Homo sapiens: one gene and its partner. The protein of the gene in region 1 purifies or fractionates together with the protein of each later gene. This does not show direct contact. Each region holds a gene or a part of one and is shown in the gene's direction. Other genes may lie near its edges. The genes, in order: COL4A2 and P4HA2.

Region 1 (3,809 bases):
AAAACCTCATCATTGCTGCAAGCTCACCCCCAGTCTCTTTGACTCTTTGATCTTTGGATGGCACCAAGAACATTGATTGCCCAGCAGAGCTTCTCAAAGTGCAGGCCCCCTAGACCCCCAGACCTAAACCCTGAAAGGCTTGTTAAGAAGTCAGGCCCCATCTCAGACCTTCAGGTCAGACATTCCAGGGTGGAGTCCGGGACTCCGCCTCCCCACATGATACCAGAATCTGGGAACCACTGAGCTACAGTATTGGGTTGAGAGGCAGTTGAGATTACTTGCCAATTCACTTTATTTTCCTGGGCTTTAGATTCTAACTCAACCAAAAAAAATAGATATTTTTAATCATTTTACTAGGGACCTAGTAATATGTGTTGTTAAGAGACATGTAGTTTGTTACGTTCAACAAGGGGCTGGTCTTCTACTTACTCACTTCTTGGTAACCACTGGCTTTAATGGCTGTTCCTTGTGAAATAATGTTTCAATTTTCAACTGTATTGATTAAAGATTTTTCTTAATTGTGGCAAGGACTCTTTCCTGCGTAGGTCAGTTCAGGAAAAAGGGCTGCCGCTGGGAGCCCTTTGGCTTGTTTTGTTTCGGAAGCAGCTAGGATGGGCAGTGAAGAGCCTTGGTGATTACTTATTGGGCACTTCCTGTGTGCCAATTTGTCTGTACTAATGCTTCTAATCCTCACAAGCAAGCACACTGATGAGCTAGGTAACTATTATTACCCCCATTTTACAGGTGAGAAAAGCCACAAAGGGTTTGCAGCCCTCGCCCAAGGTTCCTGTCTTTGTAACTGAATGAGACGGATTAGAACCCAGGCCTCTTCCTCCACACCGAGCTTCCCAGGGCCTGAAAGGTGGCCGGGAGGGCACTCCTGAGTTTCAGTCTTTGAGTCTCCTGGGGTGTGGGTGCTTTCTTCTTGGTCTTGACCGTGGACTAACAGTGGAGCGGGCACTGATTCCTAGGAAGGAGGCTCTCCCCCTCCTTCCTCCTCTGCTTCTCCCACTGTGAGGATCAGGGGCAGCAAGTGAAGGAGAGAAGCAAGACCCTTCCCAAAGGGAGGAAAGGAAGCCGAAATCCCACGGGGCAGCCTGGGCTCTAGACTCAGTGTGAACCCAGGTGATCTGTGTGGGCACCTCAGGACACACTCCCTGCTGTCCAAGGTGCCCTTTCTAAAGGTGCCCTTGTTTGAATGTGGTGCCAAGATGCACAAAATGGCTTCGTGTAAGGCAGTGTGACACAGGGGTCCCATCCCAGACTTGAGGCAGGTGACGGGGTGCAGTTCTCAGTCTGGTGGGCAGCTGAGGGGCTGCCGCCTGGGGCGGACATTCGCCAAGCCTCTGCGTCCTAGTTCTCCTCTCCCCCAAAACGGAGGTGTTACTCATCCCACCCACCTCATAGATGGGGGTGCTGTGAGGTGTGTGGGTGCATGTGAAGCGCCTTGGAGGGTCTGGCACAGCCTGGGTGCCAGGAGGTATCCCCTGGGCCTGTTTAAGGGACTTCCCCTCGGCTGCCTATTCTAACCTTCATGGAGGCTTGAAAGCACTCACTGTAGCCGCTCTGAGCATTGTCACCTATCTCCAGAGGCTGGCAGCAGCCTGAGGGATCAAATATGCAGCCGGCTGGGTGGTCACCTGAGGACCTCTGGCCGGGACCTGGGGCCACAATAGACGTGGGTTCACGTAGGCATCAGTGCGGGGCCCCTGCCTGCCACCCTGCCGCTTAGTTTCCAGGCTGTCCTCGGGGCTCCAGCCCCAGGAAATTCGCCTGACCTTCCTGTTGGCTGCCACCGCCTTCCCTGCCCTCCAGGCCGGCAGCTGCGGTGGCAAGTCCTTTCCGCAGGCTTTGGTACAGGGAGGAGAGGTGTTCATGCCGCACGAGGCCCAGAGCTTTCTGTAAGGATCGGGAAGGACAATTCTTTCCTGCATTTCCTGGAGCTGAAGCGCTATTGCTCAAAACATGGCCCTCTGAGAAGAAGGGAAAAGCACGGGGTTCCTCCTCTGCTCGTGGATAAACAAGCATATCTCAGCTCTCTGGAGGCTGTTAAAGTCTTCCTCCATGGGTGGCTTGTAGGACTTGGCCACGATAAATAATAGCAGAGATTTGTCAGCAGCATCCCAGAAGGAGAGGTGGGTAGGAAGGGTAAACCGAAAAGCGCAGGAGAGGAAACAGGCTCTGTACGACCAGGCGGCTATGTTTACAACCAGAGAGAGAGAGGTGAAGAGGAAAAGGTTCTAGAATAGAAAAAAGATTTTGCTAAAATAATAAAAATCAAAGAACTGTGTTTAATTGTGTTTCTGGGGAGAGGGAAAGAAAATGGATGTGTAGTTTAAATAATAGAGAAACTCAAGGGAAAAACTGAGTGCCATGGAGATTTAACTTTTCAACCCTGTGTTGATAATATAATGAAGAGATCACCATCTAGAAAGTGGTTTGAGAATGTCTCATTCTTTTTATCTGAAGAAGAATGTTTGTCTTTGATTAGAGGGTTTTAGAGAAAGCTCTGAAACTGGCCTCATGCTTTGTGTCTGCTGGTGTCTACTGTGTGATCACTGCTGAAGGTAGGAGGCAATGTCTGCAACCCCCAGCCTTGGCTGATAGAGCTTGTGAATCAGGGACCAGGAATGACACAATAGTCTTGAGAGGCCATAAAGTCTAATCCAGCCTGTTGCTAACCGGGTTCTGACTTCAGGGCAAGACACTTTACGTGCTTTGGCTCTGGAGCCTGGAAGAGAATGTTGTGTGGAATGGATCTCTCAGGTGATCAACATACCATGAGTAAGTTAGAGGTCAGCAGTGAGGGCTGGCCTGTGCAGGTGTGCTAAGACCTGTGAGGGTGAGCCGGGGTCTCCGCTGTGATGCTGGGGATGAGAAAGCCCTTCCAGATAAGCTCCAGAATAGAATCTATCCAGCCTGCACCAGGATATCGCTTAGAAATCAATATGCCACATGGGACTTTTTATCTTCACGGTGTCGAGAAGCTTCTGGAATCCAGTAAATATGTGACATTTCTCAGTTGAGATGAGGAAAAGGGCAGAGTTCCTGGATAGTCCCCTCTTGCTGTTTCCCTCTGGTGCCCACTCCCTTCAGTTAATGAGACCCTGTCAGGACAGGTGACGGCCTAAGTGACTCACTGCTCTTGATTTCATTGGTGGCTCCGGAGGACGGTAATTTTTATTTTGGTTACCCCTGAAAGGAGAAGGCGGCATCTAATTCTAGGGAGACTTCACAGGTGTCTCCAGTCCTGTTGATGTGGCCAGAGAGTGAATTTCAAAGGACGTGCGAGCAGCCGGCGTCCACCCGGCAGGCTCCCACCCCGGTGCCCCGCGTCCACCCGGCAGGCTCCCACCCCGGTGCCCCGCGTCCACCCGGCAGGCTCCCACCCCGGTGCCCCGCGTCCACCCGGCAGGCTCCCACCCCAGTGCCCCGTGTCCACCCGGCAGGCTCCCACCCCAGTGCCCCGTGTCCACCCGGCAGGCTCCCACCCCGGTGCCCCGCGTCCACCCGGCAGGCTCCCACCCCAGTGCCCCGTGTCCACCCGGCAGGCTCCCACCCCGGTGCCCCGCGTCCACCCAGCAGGCTCCCACCCCAGTGCCCCGTGTCCACCCGGCAGGCTCCCACCCCGGTGCCCCGCGTCCACCCGGCAGGCTCCCACCCCAGTGCCCCGTGTCCACCCGGCAGGCTCCCACCCCGGTGCCCCGCGTCCACCCGGCAGGCTCCTACCTCGGTGCTGGGTTCCAGCCCCTCCCCTGTCTCCTGAGCTCCTGGCTGGCTCCTGAGTACTCTGCTTCACTGTCTTCTGT
Region 2 (3,809 bases), on another chromosome or scaffold:
TTTTTTCCCTTTATGCTTTTATTGTGTGGTTATTACATGCTGGGGATTGTGCTGTGTACATGCTGGTGAGCAGAACATATGTGGTCTCTCTTGTGCTTGAGGTCCAATATGAGAGACTTATTTTAAACATCAGAGAGATTCTTCTTTATCTTTTTTTTTTTTTTTTTTTGAGACAGACTCTCCCTCTGTTGCCCAGGCTGGAGTGCAGTGGCGCTATCTCAGCTTACTGCAAACTCTGCCTCCCAGGTTCAAGCGATTCTCCTGCCTCAGCCTCCCAAGTAGCTGGGATTATAGGCGTGCACCACCATGCCCAGCTAATTTTTGTATTTTTAGTAGAGATGAGGTTTCACCATCTTGGCCAGACTGGTCTCAAGCTCCTGACCTCAAGTGATCCACCCGCCTTGGCCTCCCAAAGTGCTGGCATTACAGGCGTGAGCCACCATGCCCAGCCTAAACATCAGAGAGATTATTATGTAGTTATGGAGACAGGTGCTGTGAACCCCAGGCTTGGGGTTCAGTGGAGGCCTCTCTTTGGAAGTAACATATCAGTTGAGACTTAAAAGTTGAGTGGAAATTAGCTGGTAGAACATGGTTTCTGGCAGAAGAGAGAGTGTATGTAGTCCTGTAAGAGAAAAGGAACTTGGGATGTTGGAAAGGTAGAAAAAGGCTGGTGTGTCTGGAGAGAGGCTAGTGAGACTGACAGGGCCTTGGGGTTCTAGAAAAGAATCTGAGTTTGATCCACAGGGCTGTGAGAAGCCATCAGAGCTTTTGTCTTATTCATTTACCATATGTCTGTCAAGTACCCTTCAGTGAGTCTGGTATGTGTCCTGTGGAAATATTTTTTACCTCCAATTTTTATTAAATTATGGACAAAAAAAGTAAGAGAGCCAGATGGGAAAGAAGTAGTGCTTTGGCCATGAGTCAAGGCATGCTCTGTGGGCATGAGTACAGCCTTGCTAGTGTGGAACTTGTGTTCAATGTAGTTTAAGGCCTTACCATAGGAGAAAGCAGGGCCTCTAGAGACACAGTGCCCCACCCTTCCACTCAGTTGGCCCCAGGAAGGGTGGCTACTCTGGGAAGGTGAAGGTCTGACTAGAGCAGCAAACTACTAGAGCCAGAGAAACAGAGCTGCAGTGGGGACTGCACATGGTGTTGGAAACAGTACAGAGCTCCTGGTCAGGGCACTTTGCAGAGTACAGTGGCTTAGGCAAGGCCAAGGCTAGATGGGGATTCAAAGGGTGGGGTCAGAACAGGCATTTTCTGAGTACAGACTCAGATTATTTTCATCCAGGGACAGCCCGGATGTGGGTCTCCTGTGGGCCTCAACTCTTGAACACTCATGACATGGAGACTGTTCTAATGAATCACACTGGTTAAGTAGGCATGGGAAGAGCCTTTCTTGGCTAAAGGGCTGGCCATGGAGCAGACACCAAGTAGTGTCACTCATGCTGAGAGGAGGGCAATCTATATACCTTGTCATGTCCTTTGTGGCTCAATTGCTCTGAGAGCCTTGGGTAGGAGGGTCAAGCTCTATGTCTTATATTTCCAGATGAGTGATGTAGAAGCTGGTGGTGCCACCGTCTTCCCTGATCTGGGGGCTGCAATTTGGCCTAAGAAGGTAAGTTCTGATTCTTGTGGGTCAGAGGTTGAAGCAAGGCTCAGACTTTACTTTGTCCATGTCCCCCAGTACCATTACCTGGCCTGCCTGATTGTCACTGTGATGTGCCTTAGCCCACCTGGGGTCTGACCTGGTAGCCCAGCTTCTCCCTGTGAAGAAAGGACAGGGAGGGAAGTCCCTTCAGGGGCGGGTGAGTTCCCAGACTTCTACCTCAGAAAGGTAGGTGCTTTCTGGGAAATGTCTCTGTTGCTGGAGTCCCAGAGCCCTATCCCCTGTCCATGGGAAAATGAGGGTGTTTCTGCTCAGGGCAGAGCTTCTGTGATGCTTGCAGTCAGGTCCCTGAGCACAGTCTCTTAAGAATGTGTTCTGAAAGGCCATCTCTTTCCCAGGGTACAGCTGTGTTCTGGTACAACCTCTTGCGGAGCGGGGAAGGTGACTACCGAACAAGACATGCTGCCTGCCCTGTGCTTGTGGGCTGCAAGTGGGGTGAGTGTCTTAAGGGGTAGTGTTGGTGTTGGTGGCCTCAGCTTGGGCTTTGCTTATTGGCCTTAGATTCTGAGCTGGGAGGCAACTGCTGCCAAATTTGCTGAGACTGTCTCCCTTCTTAGGTTTTTTTCTGCTGTTATTACCATCCAGCCATGTAATGTCCATGCAGCTGGTAAATGCCAAGGCAGCTGGTTGGAAACACTCAGAGATACACAGGAAGCTGAAGAAGGCCTGAGGACGAATAGCTGCATAAGCACCATAGGTCCAGGACCCTCTGGCAAGGCTTCTGAGGGAGCAGAGTGGAGAGCTGGAAGCAGTGAGGGGAAAGAGTGTCTCAGGCAAACAAGGCCCATATGGATGGAGGCACAGGCTAAAACCAGCATACGGGTGTGGGGGCTGGCTCCCTTGTCACTTGAAGAAAGGGAGGCCTGTGGCACAGGGGCCAGAAGATGAGGCTGGAGGCTGGGACCAAACTGCAGAGGCTCAAGCTTGAGCCTTATCCTGGGAGCAGTTGTGGTGAGCCTCGGAGAGGCTCAAACCAGGATATGACAGGAAGTGTTTGTAAGGAGATGAGTGTGTAGCCCCCTTGGAGAGTTTTGAAGATAAATAGTGATAGGTTTGCAGATAATTAAGCAAATGGAAAAGAAAACAAGGCAGTTGCTGAATTCAGGGGAAAAAAAGTTGTACAAGAAAGGAAATGTAAGTATAATCTACTAGATGGCTCAGGTGTAACACATGATATAATTATGTACACACTGAGTATTACTTTAACTAAAACTTATGATTTACCTGTACTGGAAAGGTGGGAGGGGATGAGTTTGTGTTTTAGGGGTAGAATAAAAGAATTCCAAAGTTGAAAGTCAAGGAATAGAACTATAAGCATCTTATCTAGAAAAATGAGGTTAAATATCAGAAGAAACAGCTAGAGGAGTTTAATGTTCCCTGGGAGTGGAGATTAGGGATGGGAAGGAGAGGCTTAGGAGGAGTGCTATTTATCATTATAAGCCTTGCGACAATTTTATTTTTTTCAATGAAGTACATGTTATTACTTTATATTTTAAAAGCTCTGTGACTTCAGTAGTGCATTGAAATAAAATTTTTATTCATTATGAGAGAGTCTGTGAGGAACAGAATCATGGTTCCTGTGTGTTTGAAGATATGGCGTGGGGTGATAGTGCTGGCAGCAGCTCTGTTGCTCTTGTGCCCATGGCATACAGACTGGATCTGCTGGTCCACGGCTCCTGAGGTTAATGTCCAAGCCCTCTGCAATGCTGACAGTCTTCCTCATCCTCACACCCTACCTCTCAGTTTCTACCTGCCACCTCCCAGTAATATTAGGCCTCTTGAGTCCCCAACACACGTCAGGGTGGCTTCTGCCTTGATTACTTTCTCATCCTGTTGTCACTCCTGGGACCCTCTTGGTGAGAGAACCATCTGGGTATGCCCATCTTCTTCCCAGGATAACTTCTATGTAGCTTTATATTCTAGCCCTAGGATTTCCTCTTCCCTCTAAGAGCAAGAAACATGTGTGCAGGTTGCCATGGGAATAGAGCCAAAGGGCATCAAAGGTCATGGGCATGAAAGGGCATGATTAGATGCCCTTGGGTGCTATTCCCATGGCAACCTGCACACATGTATCTTGTCCCACTGGCAGAATTTCATACAATTATCTGTTTACATGTGTCTTCCTTACCAATTCTTCAGC

What was found.
Region 2: the proteins of COL4A2 (region 1) and P4HA2 purify together in Homo sapiens (co-immunoprecipitation; one large-scale study listed by IntAct). This does not show direct contact.

The regions. Positions count from the first base shown.
Region 1 is NC_000013.11:110,310,144-110,313,952, forward strand, and holds part of COL4A2 (collagen alpha-2(IV) chain preproprotein), read left to right. Parts: intron 1-3,809. UniProt on the Homo sapiens protein: Type IV collagen is the major structural component of glomerular basement membranes (GBM), forming a 'chicken-wire' meshwork together with laminins, proteoglycans and entactin/nidogen.
Region 2 is NC_000005.10:132,193,221-132,197,029, reverse strand, and holds part of P4HA2 (prolyl 4-hydroxylase subunit alpha-2 isoform 2 precursor), read left to right. Parts: intron 1-1,549; coding exon 1,550-1,618; intron 1,619-2,007; coding exon 2,008-2,104; intron 2,105-3,809. UniProt on the Homo sapiens protein: Catalyzes the post-translational formation of 4-hydroxyproline in -Xaa-Pro-Gly- sequences in collagens and other proteins.